6 linked regions of the Homo sapiens genome follow. The protein of the gene in region 1 purifies or fractionates together with the protein of each later gene. This does not show direct contact. Each region holds a gene or a part of one and is shown on either strand. Other genes may lie near its edges. The genes, in order: CCDC61, ADD3, FHOD1, NHSL3, UACA and TRIOBP.

The links.
Region 2: the proteins of CCDC61 (region 1) and ADD3 purify together in Homo sapiens (tandem affinity purification; one study listed by IntAct). This does not show direct contact.
Region 3: the proteins of CCDC61 (region 1) and FHOD1 purify together in Homo sapiens (tandem affinity purification; one study listed by IntAct). This does not show direct contact.
Region 4: the proteins of CCDC61 (region 1) and NHSL3 purify together in Homo sapiens (tandem affinity purification; one study listed by IntAct). This does not show direct contact.
Region 5: the proteins of CCDC61 (region 1) and UACA purify together in Homo sapiens (tandem affinity purification; one study listed by IntAct). This does not show direct contact.
Region 6: the proteins of CCDC61 (region 1) and TRIOBP purify together in Homo sapiens (tandem affinity purification; one study listed by IntAct). This does not show direct contact.

The regions. Positions count from the first base shown.
Region 1 is NC_000019.10:46,001,967-46,005,466, reverse strand, and holds part of CCDC61 (centrosomal protein CCDC61), read right to left. Parts: intron 2,460-3,500; 5' UTR 2,449-2,459; coding exon 2,301-2,448; intron 2,049-2,300; coding exon 1,966-2,048; intron 1-1,965. UniProt on the Homo sapiens protein: Microtubule-binding centrosomal protein required for centriole cohesion, independently of the centrosome-associated protein/CEP250 and rootletin/CROCC linker.
Region 2 is NC_000010.11:110,129,984-110,133,024, forward strand, and holds part of ADD3 (gamma-adducin), read left to right. Parts: intron 1-379; coding exon 380-503; intron 504-2,321; coding exon 2,322-2,417; intron 2,418-3,041. UniProt on the Homo sapiens protein: Membrane-cytoskeleton-associated protein that promotes the assembly of the spectrin-actin network. Plays a role in actin filament capping. Binds to calmodulin.
Region 3 is NC_000016.10:67,240,982-67,244,481, reverse strand, and holds part of FHOD1 (FH1/FH2 domain-containing protein 1), read left to right. Parts: intron 1-3,500. UniProt on the Homo sapiens protein: Required for the assembly of F-actin structures, such as stress fibers. Depends on the Rho-ROCK cascade for its activity. Contributes to the coordination of microtubules with actin fibers and plays a role in cell elongation.
Region 4 is NC_000001.11:32,769,330-32,772,829, forward strand, and holds part of NHSL3 (NHS-like protein 3), read left to right. Parts: intron 1-343; coding exon 344-457; intron 458-550; coding exon 551-3,112; intron 3,113-3,500. UniProt on the Homo sapiens protein: Able to directly activate the TNF-NFkappaB signaling pathway.
Region 5 is NC_000015.10:70,683,559-70,687,058, reverse strand, and holds part of UACA (uveal autoantigen with coiled-coil domains and ankyrin repeats), read left to right. Parts: intron 1-2,612; coding exon 2,613-2,794; intron 2,795-3,500. UniProt on the Homo sapiens protein: Regulates APAF1 expression and plays an important role in the regulation of stress-induced apoptosis. Promotes apoptosis by regulating three pathways, apoptosome up-regulation, LGALS3/galectin-3 down-regulation and NF-kappa-B inactivation.
Region 6 is NC_000022.11:37,773,548-37,777,047, forward strand, and holds the end of TRIOBP (TRIO and F-actin-binding protein), read left to right. Parts: intron 1-235; 3' UTR 236-3,009; downstream 3,010-3,500.

The sequences.
Region 1 (3,500 bases):
CCAATGCATGATGTTACAAGATCATCCACAGGTAAAAAAATATCCATACAAAATGCAAGATAAGTCAGTGGAATTTAATGTAACAATACAAAAAGTTCACTGATGAGGATGCAGATTCCACATTGCAACTAACCTTTAAGAAACTATCGCTTGTCCAGGCCAGGCGCGGTGGCTCACACCTGTAATCCCAGCACTTTGGGAGGCCGAGGCAGGTGGATCACTTGAGGCCAGGAATTCAAGACCAGCCTGGCCAAGATGGCAAAACCCCGTCTCTACTAAAAATACAAAATTAGCCGGGCATGATGGCGCATGCCTGTAATTCCAGCTACTCGGGAGGCTGAAATAGGAGAATTGCTTGAAATCGGGAGGCGGAGGTTGCAGTGAGCCAATATCATGCCACTGCACTCCAGCCTGGGCTACACAGATAGTATCTCAAAAAAAATAAATAAATAAATACAAAAATTAGCTGGGCATGGTGGGCAGGCCTGTAGTCCCAGCTACTTGGGAGGCTGAGGCATGAGAATCACTTGAACCCGAGACGCGGAGGTTGCAGTGAGCTGAGACTGTGCCACTAAGCCTGGGCAACCGAGCAAAACTCTTGTCTCAAAAAAAAAAAAAAAAAAAAAAAAAAGATATCTAAATACCACCCATCCCTGTCACTCTAAGTTCTAACCTGCTTCTTCCCCCTGATTATTACTTTTAGGCTGGGCACGGTGGCTCACGCTTGTAATTGCAACACTTTGGGAAGCCAAGGCAGGAGGATTACTTGAGATCAGGTATTCAAGACCAGCCTGGCCAATACAGTGAAACCCCATCTCTACTAAAAATACAAAAATTAGCCGGGTGTGGCGGCACACGCCTGTAGTCCCAGCTACTCGGGAGGCTGAGGCAGGAGAATTGCTTGAACCCAGGAGGCAGAGATTGCAGTGAGTTGAGATCACGCCACTGCACTCCAGCCTGGGAGACAGAGTGAGATTCCATCTCAAACAAACAAACAAAAACTTTTAAATACCTGACATTATGTATTTTTTCATTTGTCTGTCTCTCCAAAATGTCAGCCTCATGAGGACAGGGGTTTTGTCTGTTGTTCACTGCTGTATCGCCAGTGTCCCCCACAATGACTGACACACTGTCAATGCTCAGCAAATGAAATGAATGAATGGCTATATTCACTGATGTGACTACATTTTTATGAGATATTGCTGAATCCTTTAAAAGCAAGTTGCAGGCTGGGCGCAGTGGTTCACGTCTGTAATCCCAGCACTCTGGGAGGCAGAGGCGGGTGGATCACCTGATGTCCGGAGCTCCACACCAGCCTAGTCAACATGATGAAACCCCGTCTCTACTAAAAATACAAAAAATTAGCCGGGCATGGTGGCGTGCGCCTGTAATCCCAGCTACTCAGGAGGCTGAGGCAGGAGAATCGCTTGAACCTGGGAGGCGGAGGTTGCAGTGAGCTGAGATGGTGCCACTGCACTCCAGCCTGGGCGACAGAGCGAGACTCCATCTCAAAAAAAAAATAAACAAACAAACCAAAAAAAGCAGGTTGCAGAATACCTTGGAAATTATATAAACTATATATAATTACAGATCTGCAAATGCATACACACACACACACACACACACACACACACACACACACACACGTATTTGGAAACAAACAGAGACATGGAGAAAGGACTGGAGTGATTTTCACCAAAATATTAACAGAAGCGAGTATTAGGGCTGGAGTGATTTTTACTTTCTTCTTTATATTTCTCTGTGACCTAAATTTTCTACATGAGAATAACTATCATTAAGTTCAAAATGAAGCATTTACACTTGGCAAAAGAAGAAAATGATCGCCCTCTTCCCACAATGAAAGAGAAGGTAGAGGGTCTTACATACATCAGATGGGCATCAACCCCCCTGGAACCTGGAAGACAGAACCCCCCTCCCACCCCAACCCGCCAACCCGGGCCCTACCTGAGTGAGGGCTGACTCCAGCATATGACAGAAGATGTTGAACTGTTTGAAGTTCCCTGTCTTGTGAGTCAAATCTTCAATGACTGGGTGGGGAGAAAAGTCTCTCCTGAGGTCTGACCGCTTGCCCAGCCCCAGGGCAATGCACCTAAGCTCTGCAATTCTACCCGACTCCAGTGTCTCTGGCTTGAGCAACAAGACCTACACCCCTCCCCACACTGGAGAGTTTCTGGTGACAAAGAAGAGGCAGGTGGGCAGGATTCAGGGTGGCCTGATATTCTGGGAGAAGCTGATCCCAGGAGAGGAAAGGTGAGCCCACCCCAGGCAGGCACACTCACAGCCAGCATCGAACTCGCCCCGCCACTGGTCAGCCGTCATCCGGTCCTCCACCTCCAGCTCCAGCACCTGCCCAGAAACCATCACCCGCACGGCATGCTCCACACCCCGGAAGACGTAGTCCACCTGCAGGCCAGCCGGCTGGTCCATGGCCAAGGTTGCTGGAGAAGGAGATGAGAGAGAAACCTAGAGGAGCTCAGAGCCCAGGCTCATGAGTTGGAAGGCCAGGCCTCATATCCTGGCTCCATCATTTACCAGCTGTGGCATCCTGGGAAAGCGAATTCACCTCTCTGTGCCTTAGTTTCCTCATCTGGAAAATGGGTATAATAATGGCACCAACCTCGTGGACTTGTTGTGAGGATTACATTGGGCAATATGTATAAAAGTACTTGGTACTGTGACCTGGAGGCTGTGTCCAATATGTGCTGGATACTAGAAATTCATGATTGCCAAGCCGGGCGCGGTGGCTGACAACTGTTATCCCAGCACTTTGGGAGGCTGAGGCAGGAGGATCACTTGAGCTCAAGAGTTCAAGACCAGCCTGGGCAATGTGGTGAAACCCCACCTCTACTAAAAATACAAAAAAATTGCCAGGTGTGGTGGTGCATGCCTGTGGTCCCAGCTACTCGGGAGGCTGGAGGCAGAGCTTGCAGTGAGCTGTGATCTTGCCACTGCACTCCAGTCTGGGTGACAGAGTGAGACCCTGACTCAGTTAAAAAAAAAAAAGAAAGAAAAGAAATACATGATGGCCAAAAAAAGAATCATGATTAATATTAGTATTAATTTATTAAGTCTTATACTCATTATATATTTATTATTATTCATTCATTCATTCAGCAAACATTTGTGGAGAAAAGTCAAGCTGGAAAGAGGGACGGGGGTATTGGAGTAGGATGAGCCAAGCTTTTAAAAGGGGGTCAGAGCAGGCCAGGTGCGGTGGCTCATGCCTGTAATCCCAGCACTTTGGGAGGCGAGGCAGGTGGATCATGAGGTCAGGAGTTCCAGACCAGCCTGGCCAACAATGGTGAAACCCCATCTCTACTAAAAATACAAAAAAATTAGCCAGGTGTGGTGCCCCGTGCCTGTAATCCCAGCTACTCCGGAGGCTGAGGCAGGAGAATCGCTTGAAGCCAGGAGGCAGAGGTTGCAGTGAGCTGAGATGGTGCCACTGCACTCCAGCCTGGCGACAGGGGGAGACTCCA
Region 2 (3,041 bases), on another chromosome or scaffold:
TTTTGGTACAGTTTCATTTCTGTAAGCCTTTTTTACAGTGGTCTTTAAAATGGAGCAATTCTTGTTTTTTTCAAGTTTTTTTTATGTGAAACTTATTAGAACTTGGCATAATGGTTTTTAAAAATTATTAAGATTTACTTATACAGGCTTATTGAGGAAATATCACTGGCAATTTTAGTCCATTGGATTAGTAGTTTAAGGGCATCAATCTTACAAGAGCATTTTAAACAAAGCATGTTACCTTGCATTTCTTAGGATTGTTGTGAAATAAGGCTTCACAAACATCATATTTGCATTTATGTGTATATAGATGGATGGATGGATAGATATATAAGTAAAACTCTTGGTAATGAATCGATTTTTATTTTTTCTTTGTAAGACTATGCAATTTGAAGATGATGATCATGGCCCACCAGCTCCTCCTAACCCATTTAGTCATCTCACAGAAGGAGAACTTGAAGAGTATAAGAGGACAATCGAACGTAAACAACAAGGCCTAGAAGGTTAGTTAATCTTTACATTCAACCTAGGGTAAGCCACACTGATAACAATAAAGTACCTCACGTTGGATGATAGAAAGCAGTCAGTGTGGCCGGGCACAATGGCTCACACCTGTAATCCCAGCACTTTGGGAGACCAAGGCAGGTGGATTGCTTGAGGTCAGGAGTTTGAGACCAGCCTGGCCAACATGGTGAAACCCCGTCTCTATTAAAAATTAAAAAATTAGCCGGGCATGGTGGTACACGCCTGTAGTCCTAGCTACTCTGGTGGCTGAGGCAGGAGAATCGCTTGAACCTGGGAGGCAGAGGTTGCAGTGAGCTGAGATCGCACCACTGCACTGCAGCCTGGGCGACAGAGAGAGACTCCGTCTCAAAAAAAAAAAAACAGAAAAAGAAAAAAAACAATCTGAATGCTACTATTTTATAGTAAAATCTTCTAGAAAGTGAGATTCCCAGATGAGTAAAGAATTACTAGCCAAAGTAGATGTAGATAAATTAATGGATTTAAACATTTCATAATTATGTGGCTTTTTAACTCTCTTAATTTTAAATAATTACAGATTCATAAGTATGTAGTTTTGATGCTTTGTAAAATCTCTATTTCTGGTTATCTCAAGGTGCCAACATTGTCACTTCAAAATTTAAAACTAACTGCTAAAATTTTGATGTGACTTTCCTTAAGCACACGGACACTCTAGTAGGTTGAGTTTTCTGGCTTTGGAACCCTTAGTAAGTAGATTGTTAGGATTATATTTAAGACTTGTTAATGAAAACATCTTAAACAATTGACTACTAGCTCCCTTTTTCTCTGGAATAAGAGATTCTTCCTAGCAGGAGTTCTCTATCTTGAGTCTTTGGATAAGCTTCAGGCAGTCCATGAGCCACCTGAAAAATACATGCTTTATTGTTTAAGGTACACATTTAGGGAGGGAAGGGTTCAGGGTCAGGAACAAGCCTGTCACCCAAAAAGAGGGTAAGGAGCCTCTGCTTTAGAGCATCCACAACATACAGTTGAAATTTTCATGCAAAGCAAAATAAGCCAATAGTTAATGAATTTTTGTCCATGTTAGATATCATTTAGGAAGAACTAATGACATCTTGATCATCCAAGGAACAGTTTTTTGTGCCTTTGTCACAAAAGGGAGTTGTCCTGATTCATTAATGTAATTATACTAAATTTTCTAAATGGTGTTATTGAATTTGTTTATTCTAACATAAAGTTGGGAGCTTTCTCTGTTTTTCATATTTTGTAAAATATCCCTCTTTAATCTCTTGTTTTTTGAAAGCCTAAAGATGCCAGGTAACAAATGTTGCACTCTAGAACCGTCACCTTTTTTATATAACTTTATAGTAGTTTCTTCCACATTTATTATGACCTTATGAATTAGCTCAGTAACATTGCTCTGACAGGTATCACTAATTAAATATTGTTCAAAAATTCTGTGAAGCATTCTGCCTCATTAATGTAGCATCATTGGTGAGGCTTTATAATTTTTTTCATCTGTCTGCGCAGTATGTTTTGGTTTTCTAATGCTAGCAAGAGCTACATGCAACATATCATTTGCCTGGGCTGCCAGCAGCTGTGCATCTTTTGTAACCTGTACGTAAAATAACCATTAGCAGCCAGAAATGTTAACACATTAACCTCCTCTTAATGTATAATTATGGATATATGGGATAACTGTTAGCATGCTCAGCTCACTGCTGAAGAATTTATCATCTCTTTGTATACAGGCATTTGATGTATGCACTAACCTCCCTAAAATCATATGCTGCTTTGTTTTGTTTTGCATGGCTTTTAACTAAACTCTTATCCAACAGATGCTGAGCAGGAATTACTCTCAGATGACGCTTCATCTGTTTCACAAATTCAGTCTCAAACTCAGTCACCGCAAAATGTCCCTGAAAAATTAGAAGGTACTCAATGTAATTTCCCACATAGCATTCACTGAGTTAGTCTTGAGTCTGTCCCTCTGTGTTTTGTTTTCACGTGAGGAAGTTGAATACCTCATCACAGTAAGTTTTCCATATTTTACTTATATCTCCCAATAATTACATATTTTATATCATTAAAAATGGGGCGCTACTTTTGTTCAGCATTTATATTGATTTACCTTAATCTGAATTTTGGCAACCCGCAGTTCTTAAGAATTTGTGGAATTGGCTGGGCGCGGTGGCTCACACCTGTAATCCCAGCACTTTGGGAGGCTGAGGCAGGTGGATCACGAGGTCAGGAGATCAAGACCATCCTGGCTAACACGGTGAAACCCTGTCTCTACTAAAAATACAAAAAATTAGCTGGGTGTGGTGGCGGGCGCCTGTAGTCCCAGCTACTCGGGAGGCTGAGGCAGGAGAATGGCATGAACACGGGAGGTGGAGCTGGCAGTGAGCCAAGACTGCCACTGCACTCCGGCCTGGGCGACAGAGTGAGACTCCGCCTCAAAAAAAAAAAAAAAAAAAAAAGAATTTGTGGAATTAAACATCTCCCAATCAGCAGCATGAAATCTTTTTCAGTATTGATTGCCAAATGATCCCAAAACT
Region 3 (3,500 bases), on another chromosome or scaffold:
GCCCTGGTTGGTGGAAGGGAGCTTGACAGTGTCTTGGGCCGGGCCTAGTGTCCCTGGGGGAACTCAGGAGTGCCTTCCTCCCCTCCAAAATATTCCCCCAGCCCAGACCTGCCTTTGCCAGAGGGGAGAATGTGTCCCTCTGGCCTTGCATCTCATCTCCTAATCTAGAGCCTCCCAGTTCTACCCTCCCTTCTGGGAAGTGTCTCAGGAGCCTCTCCGATACCCAAGGCCCTACCACACCTGGTATAGCACTGACTTCTCCCTGAGCTCCGGGTAGGGGGATCTGGGGTGCTTCTCTGACCCTGCTGCAAAGGCCAGGAAAGCCCTCTCCTCCTGACAGTGGGGATAGCCCTAGAAATCTGGTCATTACTAGCAACTTTGTTTCCCTAGCTGTGGCTAAAAATCAGAGTAGGACAGGGGTGGCACTGTCCTGGAATGTTTCCTGACCCTACCCCAACCCACTCTAGCCTTTTTACATCTCAGGAGCCTTTGGGAGACTGTAGAAAACTGAGGTGTGGGCATGAGTCCTGGTCTCCTCCTAGCCTCCCCTGGGGCTGGACTATCCAATCTGCTGGTCATTCTGGAACAGAGTGGCTGAGCTGCAGACTGGTGAGGGACCCTGACACCTAGGTCCTGGCAGAGGTAGATACTATTATCCTAACTTGCATGGGGTGCGTGTGTCTATTGGTGTTCCCTTACTGGAACTGGGAGGACCAGTATGGGGTATTTGCAGAGTCCAGAAAACTAAGAGGATGTCTTCAGCTCTTGGCAATCCTTCTGGCCCCAGCCCTCACTCCACTTCCCCTCTAGGGTTCCTTGGAGCATTTCCAGGGCCCATCCGCCCAAGATTTGGTCAATTAGCCCTGGCTCCTGGCTGTGCACCCTGGGGCAATGCGCTGATTTTCTGATTCTTGGTTTCCCTATCTGTAAAAGGATTATTGGTAGAATCAAATTAAATAGGCGGCTCAGGCTGGGCATGGTGGCTCATGCCTGTAATCTCAGCACTTTGGGAAGCCAAGGCCAGAGGATTGCTTGAGGCCAGGAGTTCAAGAACAGTGTGGGTGATATAGCGAGACCCTATTTCTATTAAAAAAAAAAAGAAAAGAAAAAAAAGAGGCAGTCCGGTGCCTGGCACAGAGGAAGCATAAGATAACAAAAGTGGATTTCCCTCCCCAAGGCCCATCCTTGTCATCTCATTCAGGAAGTCACACTCTAGTTGGAGACCTGCGATAACAGGAAAGGAGGGTCTTCAGAACACAGGGTCCTGTGTTTATAGGAAAGGAGACAAAAGAGGCAGTTAACCAATTATTTTCTAAAATGAAAGCCCTTCAGCCTATAATCCTGCCTCTTTTCCATCTTCCCTGTACCCTGCTCTGGTATGTTCAGTCTTACCTGATTACACTGTTATTAAAAATATTGGGTAAGACAGTCTAAAGAAACAAGCGGGAAAAATGTATATTTATAAAATATATAATAGATATATGTAATAGATGTCTAGATATATATAATAGATACATAGCTATATATATAAATTATCAATATCTATAGACATCTATATATTATAGATCTATATCTATATATTATACATAGGTAGATAGATAGCTAGAAAGAGAGAGAGAAGTAGATGCCATGGTCCCCTGGGCTTGACCCTGCATATAAAACCATACATAACCAGTTGGTTTTGGGCTGCCAGAAAAGCCTGAGCCTGGAAAGTCAAGAGTATAGTGGGCTGGAGGCCAATGTGAGAAGCTGAGCCTGGGAAGAATGGGGGAAAGACTCCACCCCAAGACAGAGACCAGAGAAGTGAGGAAGACAAGAGCCAAGAAGGTGTCAGGGAAGTGGGCCCATACTACGTGCTGAGCTTAAGCCCCGTCAGCAAGGACCAGGGTTTGGGCTTATTCAGGCCTGGCCCAGCCCCAGGGTGTGAGAAACAAGGCCCAGAGGTTTGGCTCTCAGAAGGGTGACCCCAGGAAGGGGCCGGGGTGTGAGGGACATGTGCCATCCTGCTAGCAGGAAGTCTCCTGCTCTTTGCTGCTTGCCTGACTCTAGCCTACCACCCCACACTTCCACCCAGGACAGACAGCTGGGGGTGGGGAGACACTGTCCTGGAAGGCACTGGACTACCTGTTTCCCTGGACCTCCTCCCCAGAAATGGGGCCCTGGCAGGATTGGACAGGTGAAGTGGCTGAGGAGGCTAGAGAATGTGGACCATTGGCCGGGCACAGTGGCTCACACCTACAATCCCAGCACTTTGAGAGGCAGAGGCAAGTGGATCACTTGAGGTCAGGAGTTCAAGACCAGCCTGGATGACATGCTGAAACCCTGTCTCTACTAAAAATACAAAAATTAGCCAGGCATGGTGATGCACGCCTGTAACCTTAGCTACTCAGGAGGCTGAGGTAGGAGAATTGCTTGAACCCAGGAGGCAGAGGTTGCAGTGAGCCAAGACTGTGCCACTACACTCCAACTTGGGAGACAGAGCAAGACTCCATATCAAAAAAAAAAAGAAGGTGGACTATTTAACCTTCAGGACCCTTCCCCAAATGGATGCAGGTGTCCTGGAAGGAGAGGGACATTCTCTGCTCTCTTGGGATTACAGCATGCAAGGAGGCAGGACAGCGTGGTGGGCCTGACCTTTCTGGGTCTGTGCTGCTTCAGCCTGTGTTGGCCAGTGCATACCCAACCTTATACCTGGGTGTGTAAGCAGTTACCAGGTGTAACATGTTTTCCCTTCCCGTTTATCTTTATAGCACTCTGCCCCTCCCCTTTCTTAGCACTGTGAAAGTTGTGATTCCACATTCATTTGTGAGCTTTTTCTGACTCGTCTGTCTGTCTTCCCGTCTGCCCCACTGGGCTGGAAGGAAGGGAAGGCAGAGGCAGTGTCTAATTCCTCCTAGGTCCTCTGCATCTGAAACCAGCCTGGTCATGAATGTTCAAAGAATGAGCTGTTCTATATGTGTGTGATTCGAGGGGATCCCTGACGGGGGTGGCTCTGGGGTAGGTGTGTTCTTCTAGGGTCCCAGAATCTTCCAGGCCAAGGGAGGGAGATGCGGCTGTGCCTGAATGGGGGTGGGGTGGTAGGCTGCTGAGTCACTGTGTGGGAAGAGATCAGGAGGAATGTGGGTTGCCCTCAGCTGAGCTGGCCCTGGACAAGATACCCCAGCCCTCAGGCCTTGCTGCCCCTTCTCAGGCCTGTTCCCAGTAGGCCCTGGAGAAGATGACTCTGCTCCCAGGGAGGGGAAAGTGGCCAGGCCTGCCCAAGGCACCCTGGGGAGGGCAGGCAGCCAGGCAGGAAGTGGGACAGAGAACAGGCTGGAGTGTTTGTCCTATGTCCCAGGTCCCAGGCGGGGGTGGGCGGGGGGGGGGGTCATCCAAGGGCCCCACAGGCTAAACTGTGGGGAAGGAGCCAGGTCAGGCTCTGAGGCAGGCGCAAGGGTTGCTAAACAGAGGTAGGGGTTGAGGCAGGAGCTGGACTCCCTTTTTCTCCAGGGGACCAAGGC
Region 4 (3,500 bases), on another chromosome or scaffold:
ACCTTGGGAAAACCCTTAACCTCTCTGAACTTCTGTTTGATGTTCTATAAAAATGAGGATAAGTACCCTATTGGAATGAATGCCAAATGTTTAGAATGACGACTAACACGTAATAATATGTTTACTAAATAGTAAGCTATCACTAAAGGGAAATTACCATCATTGACTTAGTAGCCTTAGTCTTACAGAAAGAAGCCTCTAGCTTTGTTTAACCTAGCCTTGCCCATACCTACTTGACTGTGGAAACCATTTCTCGCAGAGCTCTTATTACAAAAGTAGTGCCCTGCAGAATGTGCCTGGAGTCCTTTGCTCTAACAGTTTTTCTCCCACGACTGGCCCCCAGGCTCCACCTTCCGACCCCATGACTCATTTCCCAAATCTGGAAAGTCAGGGCGGCGTCGGCGGGAGCGGCGGAGCACTGTGCTGGGACTCCCGCAGCATGTGCAGAAGGAGCTTGGTGAGGCCTGGGTTAGGAGGGCAGTGGTGGGGTGGGTGGGGAGCCTTGGTCATCCCCTCTCTGCTGACCCCACCTCCTCCCTGTCCCTTCCAGGCCTGAGGAATGAGCGTGAGGCACCAGGCACGCCCCGGGCTCCTGGTGCACGGGATGCCGTACGCATCCCCACAGTGGACGGCCGCCCCCGAGGCACCTCAGGGATGGGGGCCCGGGTGTCCCTGCAGGCGCTGGAGGCGGAGGCGGAGGCTGGCGCTGAGACAGAGGCCATGCTGCAGCGCCACATTGACCGTGTCTACCGGGATGACACCTTTGTTGGCCGGTCCACGGGTACCCGGGCCCCACCATTGACCCGGCCCATGTCCCTAGCAGTGCCTGGATTGACAGGAGGGGCAGGGCCTGCAGAGCCCCTGAGCCCGGCCATGTCCATCTCCCCCCAGGCCACCTACCTGTCGAAGTTGATTCCACATGCTGTGCTGCCGCCTACAGTGGACGTGGTGGCCCTAGGCCGCTGCAGCCTGCGCACACTAAGCCGCTGCAGCCTGCACTCGGCCAGCCCAGCCTCAGTCCGCTCGCTGGGGCGCTTCTCCTCCGTCTCCAGCCCACAGCCCCGCAGCCGCCACCCATCCTCCTCCAGTGACACCTGGAGCCACTCTCAATCCTCCGACACCATTGTGTCTGACGGTTCCACCCTCTCCTCTAAGGGTGGCTCTGAGGGCCAGCCGGAGAGCTCTACGGCTAGCAATAGCGTGGTACCCCCTCCCCAGGGAGGCAGTGGGAGGGGCTCTCCCAGTGGGGGCAGCACTGCTGAGGCCTCAGACACACTCAGCATTCGGAGCAGTGGGCAGTTGTCTGGCCGGAGTGTGTCCCTGCGTAAGCTGAAGCGGCCTCCACCCCCTCCCCGCCGGACCCACTCCCTCCATCAGCGGGGCTTAGCAGTGCCTGATGGGCCATTAGGGTTGCCCCCTAAGCCTGAGCGTAAGCAGCAGCCCCAGCTGCCTCGGCCACCCACCACTGGTGGCTCAGAAGGGGCGGGGGCAGCACCCTGTCCACCCAACCCAGCCAACAGCTGGGTACCTGGCTTGTCTCCGGGTGGTTCCCGGCGCCCCCCACGGTCCCCAGAACGGACACTTTCGCCCTCCAGTGGATACTCGAGCCAAAGTGGTACTCCCACCCTCCCTCCCAAGGGCCTGGCAGGTCCCCCTGCTTCCCCAGGCAAGGCCCAGCCCCCTAAACCAGAGCGTGTCACGTCTCTTCGCTCCCCTGGGGCCTCCGTCTCCTCTTCCCTCACGTCTTTATGTTCCTCCTCCTCTGACCCAGCCCCCTCAGACCGCTCTGGGCCACAGATATTGACCCCCCTGGGTGACAGGTTTGTCATACCTCCTCACCCCAAGGTGCCTGCCCCCTTCTCCCCACCTCCCTCCAAGCCCAGGAGCCCTAACCCAGCTGCCCCTGCTCTAGCCGCCCCTGCTGTGGTTCCTGGGCCTGTTTCTACCACTGACGCCAGTCCTCAGTCCCCTCCCACTCCCCAGACAACCTTGACTCCACTGCAGGAGTCTCCTGTCATCTCCAAAGACCAGTCACCCCCACCTTCCCCACCCCCATCTTATCATCCACCCCCACCACCCACTAAGAAGCCAGAGGTGGTTGTGGAGGCACCATCTGCCTCAGAGACTGCTGAGGAGCCCCTCCAAGATCCCAACTGGCCCCCTCCCCCACCCCCTGCCCCTGAGGAGCAGGACCTGTCCATGGCTGACTTCCCCCCACCAGAGGAGGCTTTTTTCTCTGTGGCCAGCCCTGAGCCTGCAGGCCCTTCAGGCTCCCCAGAGCTTGTCAGCTCCCCGGCTGCTTCGTCCTCCTCAGCTACTGCTTTGCAGATTCAGCCCCCGGGTAGCCCAGACCCTCCTCCAGCTCCGCCAGCCCCAGCTCCTGCTAGTTCCGCCCCAGGGCATGTGGCCAAGCTCCCTCAGAAGGAACCGGTGGGCTGTAGCAAGGGTGGTGGGCCTCCCAGGGAGGACGTAGGTGCGCCCCTGGTCACGCCCTCGCTCCTGCAGATGGTGCGGCTGCGCTCCGTGGGTGCTCCAGGAGGGGCTCCCACCCCAGCACTGGGGCCATCGGCCCCCCAGAAACCACTGCGAAGGGCCCTGTCAGGGCGGGCCAGCCCAGTGCCTGCCCCCTCCTCAGGGCTCCATGCTGCGGTCCGACTCAAGGCCTGCAGCCTGGCCGCCAGTGAAGGCCTCTCAAGTGCTCAGCCCAACGGACCGCCTGAGGCAGAGCCACGGCCTCCCCAGTCCCCTGCCTCAACGGCCAGTTTCATCTTCTCCAAGGGCTCTAGGAAGCTGCAGCTGGAGCGGCCCGTGTCCCCTGAGACCCAGGCTGACCTCCAGCGGAATCTGGTGGCAGAACTCCGGAGCATCTCAGAGCAGCGGCCACCCCAGGCCCCAAAGAAGTCACCTAAGGCTCCCCCACCTGTGGCCCGCAAGCCGTCTGTGGGAGTCCCCCCACCCGCCTCCCCCAGTTACCCTCGAGCTGAGCCCCTTACTGCTCCTCCCACCAATGGGCTCCCTCACACCCAGGACAGGACTAAGAGGGAGCTGGCGGAGAATGGAGGTGTCCTGCAGCTGGTGGGCCCAGAGGAGAAGATGGGCCTCCCGGGCTCAGGTACAGTGGGCAGTGCTAGGGTGAGGTCCCATTGCTGATGATGGGAAGTAGGAATCTGAAGTCCCGCCATGGGGGATTTGTTCTTGGATCTTTAACTTTTCTGGTCTGAGAATGCCTGGGAAGGGCAAGCTGTCACCCTTGCTGGGGCCCAGAGGAGAATGGTGTGTGAGTGTCAGGCCTACTGTGTTTGAATTCCAACTTTGCCTCTTTCCCTACCCTTCCTAGCTACATTGTAAAGTGTGGGGCAGTGACACCTACATTATAGTGTCTGAACATGTGTAGGGTGTCCAGCCCAGTGCTGCGGGCACTGTCAGTAAATCAAAGCGGTAAGAAGGTTGGGTGAGGGTATGCTTTGTTGGGCTCCTAGTGCCAGAACCAAGCCAGGAGG
Region 5 (3,500 bases), on another chromosome or scaffold:
GGGTACAGTGCCATCTCCTACTCTGAACCTGTCCATTTCTGTACTGCAGAGGTCCCTTGCTTTATTTTTGCTTCTGTATTTGATACTATTTTAGTTGGTGTGCTCTAATAATTTCTATCCAGAATTCTCCCTATCTCTGTCTGTAGGTCTAATGTATCATGGTGCTTGTTGTATTACAATTCTGAAGTTTATGGTCACAAAGTATCTGAAACACACCCCTTCCATTTAATTCAAGTATTACAATAAATTAAACTAAAATTTCTGGGATTTTTGTAGTTACTAGTAAAAATTTTGGTTTCTTTTGACTTAATTTTATTCTTCCAAACATGTATTCTATTGTTTGTAGTTTATTAGAAGTATAAAAGTATAAAAAATAGTCTTTAGTTGTCAGATTTTATAGCTGTAATTGTTTTCTTTATGCATCTCAAAGGAGGAAATTCTGTACCTAATGCTAAATGACGAGTTAATGGGTGCAGCACACCAGCATGATGCATGTATACATATGTAACTAACCTGCACATTGTGCACATGTACCCTAAAACTTAAAGTATAAAAAAAAAAAAAAAAAAAAAAAGAACCCTGGCTTCTACAACTCCCCTTATCTTAACTCAAGCATTTCTTTATATTGACTTCAATTCTCCAGACAAAGCTTAATGCTTTCAATCAATTCCCAATCAGGAAATCTTTGACTTGGAAGCCCCTACTTTGAAATGTCCTGACATTCTGAGCTAAACCAATGTATACCTTATATGTATTGATTTATACCTTTGCCTGTAACTTTTGTCTCCCTAAAATGTATAAAACCAAGTTGTAACTCAACCACCTCCGGCACCCATTCTCAGGACCTCCTGAGGCTGTGTCATGGGCCATGGTTGCTAACATTTGGCTCAGAATAAACCTCTTTAAATATTAAAAAAAAAAAAAAAAGATGTGATTAAGAAGTGGCTTTTTAATATTACTTTGTTTTTGTGGATACTATCATCTGATTCCAAGCATGATGAAGAAAATTGGATTTTAAAATTAAATTTTACGGCTGGGCGCGGATCACTTGAGGTCAGGAGTTCAAGACCAGCCTGGCCAACATGGCGAAACCACATCTCTACCAAAAATACAAAAATTAGCTAGGTGTGGTGGTGCGTGCCTGTAATCCCAGCTACTCAGGAGGCTGAGGCAGGAGAATTCCTTGAACCCAGGAGGCGGAGGTTGCAGTGAGCTGAGATCATGCCACTGCGCTGGCAACAGAGCGAGACTCTTGTCTCAAAAAAAAAAAAGTTAAATTTAATTTTAGGATCACAGAGGGATAATCTGGTTGATCTACATACAGTGCTTTATATTTTTTATAGCTCTCACATTTTTCAAAGCACTTTATCTATGTTTTTTCATTGGGCATTCACAAAAAGCCAATGAAGCAGGGCAGTGTATATTGTATAGACTAAATAGCATATGGTTTTCAACATAATTTATAACCTTAGTTTCTAATACTCTATATTCATTTCTTTTTTTCCTGTTTTATATGTAGCATTTTTTAAATAACAAAAACTTTGTTAATGCCTGTTTTGTACAGAATTTCTTATCAGCAACTACAGGGGAGTTGGGGGACAAGGCTTGAATATGAGAAACACAGCATACATAGCAGAGAAAAGGCAAGAGTCAGTTTCCTTAAGAGATCCAATATTCACAATTGAAGACAGAGTTAGATATAGGATATGTCATTTCATTTCATTACGTGTTGGTTAGCCCCATCCTAAAAAATAGAGGATTAGACAAAATAATTTCTAGGGTCCTTCTAGATTTTCATGACAATTATTTTGTTGCATGATTAGTATTTGCTGATGTACTGTGAGATGTTTGAGTGCCAGTGGTTCTATTGCAATAGAATAAAGCAATGATCCATGTTGCATGGCGTTAGTTGTAGTCTGAAGATGTGAAGGTCTTCAGGTAGAAGAATCAAGGTTCTTCTAAGCAGGAACATCAGGAATGGAATCTGATACTTCTCTTGGAGGAGAAGGGATTCTTAGGGGAGGTTTGCATGATGTGGTTCAGTTCATGAAGGGACTGAAAAAGTTGGGTTTTGATCACATGGGGTGACAGTATCAGTTGTGGAAAATTTTTGTGGTGATTATTTACGTGTAGGACATTGAAGAAGTGGAATAAATGAGGTTGGTTTGGTAGTAGAAGTAATTAAAGGATATAAGGATATAGAAGACAAAGCAAATGTTTTTATAAATGCAATGAATATAAAGTAAAATCTATATCTGTAACAGGCATGACTTCTTAAAGTAGTGTCTATTCTTCAAGAAGGGAGCATGTCTTAGTGTTCAAGTAAGTGTTCAAGTAGTGTTGAACACTTACTTGAACTTAGTGTTCAAGTAGAACTACAGTTTATAAGAAGCAAAACATTCCTTACTGATAAACAGTATTGGTTCATCTCCCTCTACAACATGGATTTGCTTACTTACATTATAGTCACTTGCTTTGAGGCAGTGTGTGTTGCATATATAATCTAGTTTATCCAGTGAACACTAAGACAGTGTTCAACAATAGGGCAGAATATTTCTGCAATATTTCCTTGGAGTTTTCTCAGTCTTTTGCTCTTCCATTTTTCCATTTAGAACTGCCCTCATGCTAGGTTGCGAATATGGTTGCAGAGATGCAGTAGAAGTCTTAATTAAAAATGGTGCTGATATAAGCTTGCTGGATGCGCTTGGCCATGATAGTTCTTACTATGCAAGAATTGGTGACAATCTGGACATTCTAACCTTGTTGAAGACTGCATCGGAAAATACCAACAAAGGTATCAGCAGTTTTCTGTAACTAGAAAAGTCCACATTAACAAAGAGCCACTTTTTAAAAGACTTAGGTAGTAGAACTACAGTTTATAAGAAGCAAAACATTCCTTACTGATAAACAGTATTGGTTCATCTCCCTCTACAACATGGATTTGCTTACTTACATTATGGTCACTTGCTTTGAGGCAGTGTGTGTTGCATATATAATCTAGTTTATCCAGTGAACACTAAGACACTGGAATAACTTCAGAACTGAGAAGGAAGAGTCAAGTGTTTTACTAAGTTTTTTTTTTTTTTTGATGAAGAGGGGTGAACCTCCCAACTTTTTATACTTACGAAGTTTTAAAGAATCATTGTTTAAACATGTATGTAAAATAGTCAGCTGATATTTACCAAATGCCTATGCCATGATTTTTTATGTTTTTTTTAAAAAAAACAGGAACATACAGAAAAGCACAATGAATAGTCACTCATTACCACTGAGAAGCCTCTGTTAACATTTTGAGAAATATCCTTCTAGTCTTTTCCCATTAAATTGAATTCACTGTAAATCTGAATTGTAGCTTACTTTTTTATGTAACCTATTTTGAAGGCCTTTCCCTCAAAAATAGTTTTTCTATAGTATGATTTTTGTTGGTGTATGAGATTCCATTTATTTAAGTTTCATTTAATAAAGCAGTTTTCTACATGTAGTGTTTAAGCTATTTATAA
Region 6 (3,500 bases), on another chromosome or scaffold:
GCCACATCTACCTGGAGCATCCTCTTTCTGATAAGTCCTCATGGACTTCCTATGGCATGCAGGAGAGGCCACCCTATGGCTGAGCTGCTTGGGAAGGAGCCAGGAAGAGCGGATCTGGCTGTACCTTAGGGGCTGAGAGGTGGTGGAAGGACCCACTCAGCACCCTTGCTTGGCCTTGGGGTGGCCTCGCAGCCCCTCAGCCCAGGCCTCAGCCCTGCCGCACCTTGTCTTTCAGGTCCCGCCCAGCTGCAGACCCTCCAGGCTGGAGGACCAGCCGCCCTCCTTCCCTCCTGGATGGAAGTAAAAAGCCAAGCTTTCTCCCCACCCTCTGTGGGCCACACGTGCACTTGCACCCACCACACACACACACACACACACACACACACACACAGACACACAGACACATACGCACACACGTGCACACATGTACACACGGATACACACACACACACACACACTGCATATCTGAGCGCGCCCCTCGCACTGGGTCTCACCTTGCACCTTCTTCAGGATTTTATATGTGAAGAGATTTTTATATAGATTTTTTTCCTTTTTTTCCAAAACACTTTATACTTTAAAAAAAAAAAAAAAAAGCAATTCCTGGTGGCTGTGTGCCTCCAACCCTGGTCCCCCTCTGTCTCCAGCCACCCTCTGCTTGGGCTTCTGAGCTGGTGGCCCTGGCCCAGAGGTCTGGCGGAGGCCCAGGCAGCAGCCATGGCGGGGTGTCTCTACAGGGGAGAGGCGGGAGCCTGCCACCCTCTTCCTGCCCTACCTCCTACTAACACTTCCTGCCCCATTTGGACCCGTACCATGGGGCTCAGGACAGAGGGAGCTAGCAGCTGGCCTCCATGGCCCCACAGCCTCCTTCGAGGCTGTGCTGGGTGCAGAACCGCCAGAGCCACCCAAAAGGTGTTTCTCTTCTGCTCCCTGAACCTCTTAACTTAATAAAACGTTCCAGCAGCTCTGGTGTCCTAGATGGCTGGCAGAACAGGAATGGAGATTGGGGTTTCTTGAAGTGGCTTCCCCACTCACACCCTACCCACACCCCACCCTTCCTAAAGCAGCGGCCTCTAGGCTTCTGAGGGTGGGGCTGAAAATCCAAGGTCTCCCTTAGTACAGACTGTGACGCCCCCAGTGTGGCTTGCAGGCTAGTGGCAGCGGAAGCATGTGGGAAATAGCAAGTCCAGTCCCACCCCAACCTACTGAACCAGCGTCTGCATTTTAACAGGGTGCCCCAGTGATTCACGTGACCTTCAAAGTCTGAGGAGCCCTGGAGTAGGGCCCAGGGCCCAGGCCTGAGAGAGAGGCCTGGGGCTAAGACTAGCCCTGACCATGACCTTGGGCAAGTCACACCCCTCACTGAGCCTCAGTTTGCTTCTCCATCAAATGGGTGTTTTTCTTTCAGTCCCAGTCCTCTCCTGAGGCTTTTCCCAGAGGTCATGCCCAGCCCTGGGCAGGGGTGAGGGCAGGGTTGTGGCTGCCAGGCACAGGTCCAGCGGGCTGGGAGTCCTCACCATGGCTGGCTGTGCTGATTATGGTTGCATGGGGCTGGGAAGAGGTCCCATTTCTGAGCCACAGAAACAGGCCACATCCAGTAGGGGTCCTGGAAGGCTGTGAGAACCCAGAGGAGACCCTGACCCAGCCTGCAGGTAGAAGACTGCCTTTGGAGGCAGCTTTGAAAGATGACTCTTCCAGATGGAAGAATCAGGAAGGGCCTTCCCACGTGGAGGCACCAGCAGGAGCAAACGTCCCTGGTGTGTTCAGGCAAAGAGCCACAGGAGAGTGACCTCGTGGAGTGGGAAGAGATTGTTTCCCATTCCCTTGCCAGGGATTGGTTGAGGAATGGACAAGGCTTGCAGTTCACGCAAGCCAGTGAAATGCGAGGGGAAGTCTTGGGAGTGGGGTGGAGGAGGTCATCTGGGAAGGGTGTCCTTGGTCTTAAAAAGAGGCACAAGAGGCCGGGCGCGGTGGCTCTTGCCTATTATCCTAGCACTTTGGGAGGCCAAGGCAGGGGGATCACTTGAGGTCAGGAGTTCGAGACCAGCCTGGCCAACATGGTGAAACCCCGTCTCTACTAAAAATACAAAAAATTAGCCAGACGTGGTGCCAAGCACCTGTAATCCCAGCTACTCAGGAGGCTGAGGCAGGAGAATCACTTGAACCCAGGAGGCAGAAGTTGCAGTGAGCCAAGATCGCGCCACTGCACTCCAGCCTGTGTGACAAGGGCGAAACTCCATCTCAAAAAAAAAGGGGGAGGGTGGCGCAAGGAGAGGACACCTCTCTCCTGGCCCTGTCGCCATCTTCCCTCATCAATAGCTAAAAATGGCAAAGAAGAAAGAGCCAGGACCCCGTGCCATCAAATCCTCCGGCCTTGTGCTGCCCTGTCTCGGCACTGCTTGCCTTAGGAGATCAGGAGTGTTCCTAGCCACTGGGAGATGGGATGCCTGCCACTGGCAGCTCTGCCGTCCATCCTCACCATCCCACCGTCCCCCCAAGACAGCTCTCCATCCCATCCTCTGCCTCCCTTCTAGCCTCAACCTAACTCAGGGCTCCCCCGTCTCACACCTGGGTTGCAGGAACATCCTCTTCACCAACCCCCCTCCCATCCCTCCTCAGGGCTGCCTAGGGCAGCTACAAAAACCAGGCCAGCCTCTGAAAGGTGCTCCACATCTCATTAAAAACCGTGAAATCGCACTGCCCCACTATCAGAATAGCTCAGAGGAGAAGGTCTGCCAGTACCAAGTGCTGGTGGGGATACGGAGAAGAGCAGCTCCCAGGCGCTGCTGGTGCAAATGTGCTTTGTTGCACCCACGGCAGGAAACTGACCAGCTTCTCATCAAGTTAAATACGCATCTACCCTATGGCCTAGCATTTCCACTCTTGCTTACACATCCAGGAGAAATGAGTCCTTACATGCACAAAAGGATGAGTACCGTAATACTCACATCAGCAAATAAACAATACAGCTGTGTGTCAGTAGTAGAATGAATAAATTGTGGTCGATTCATACGTTAGAATACAGCAATTTAAAAACAACTGCTACACACAAAAATGTTGGTGAATCTTTCAGACACAATGTTGAGCAAAAATAGCCACAGAAGAGTGTAAGGCTGTACGATTTTATTTAGGTGAGGTTCAAGAACAGACAAAACACGGTGATAGTGGTCAGAAGAGCGGGTACCTCTGAGCTGAGGGCATTGACCAGCAGTGGGCAAAAGGGAACATTCTGATCCCAGAAATGTTCTATATCATGGTCTGGGTTGTGGTCACGTGGGTACATACAGATGTAAAAATTCACCATGCCGGCCAGGCATAATCCCAGCACTTTGGGAGGCCAAGGTAGGTGGATGACCTGAACTCAGGAGTTCCGAGACCAGCCTGGCCAACATGGCGAAACCCCGTCTCTACTAAAAATACAAATAATTAGCCGGGCTTGCTGGCGCATGCCTGTAATCCCAGCTACTCGGGAGGCTGAGGCAGGAAAATTGCTTGAACCCGGG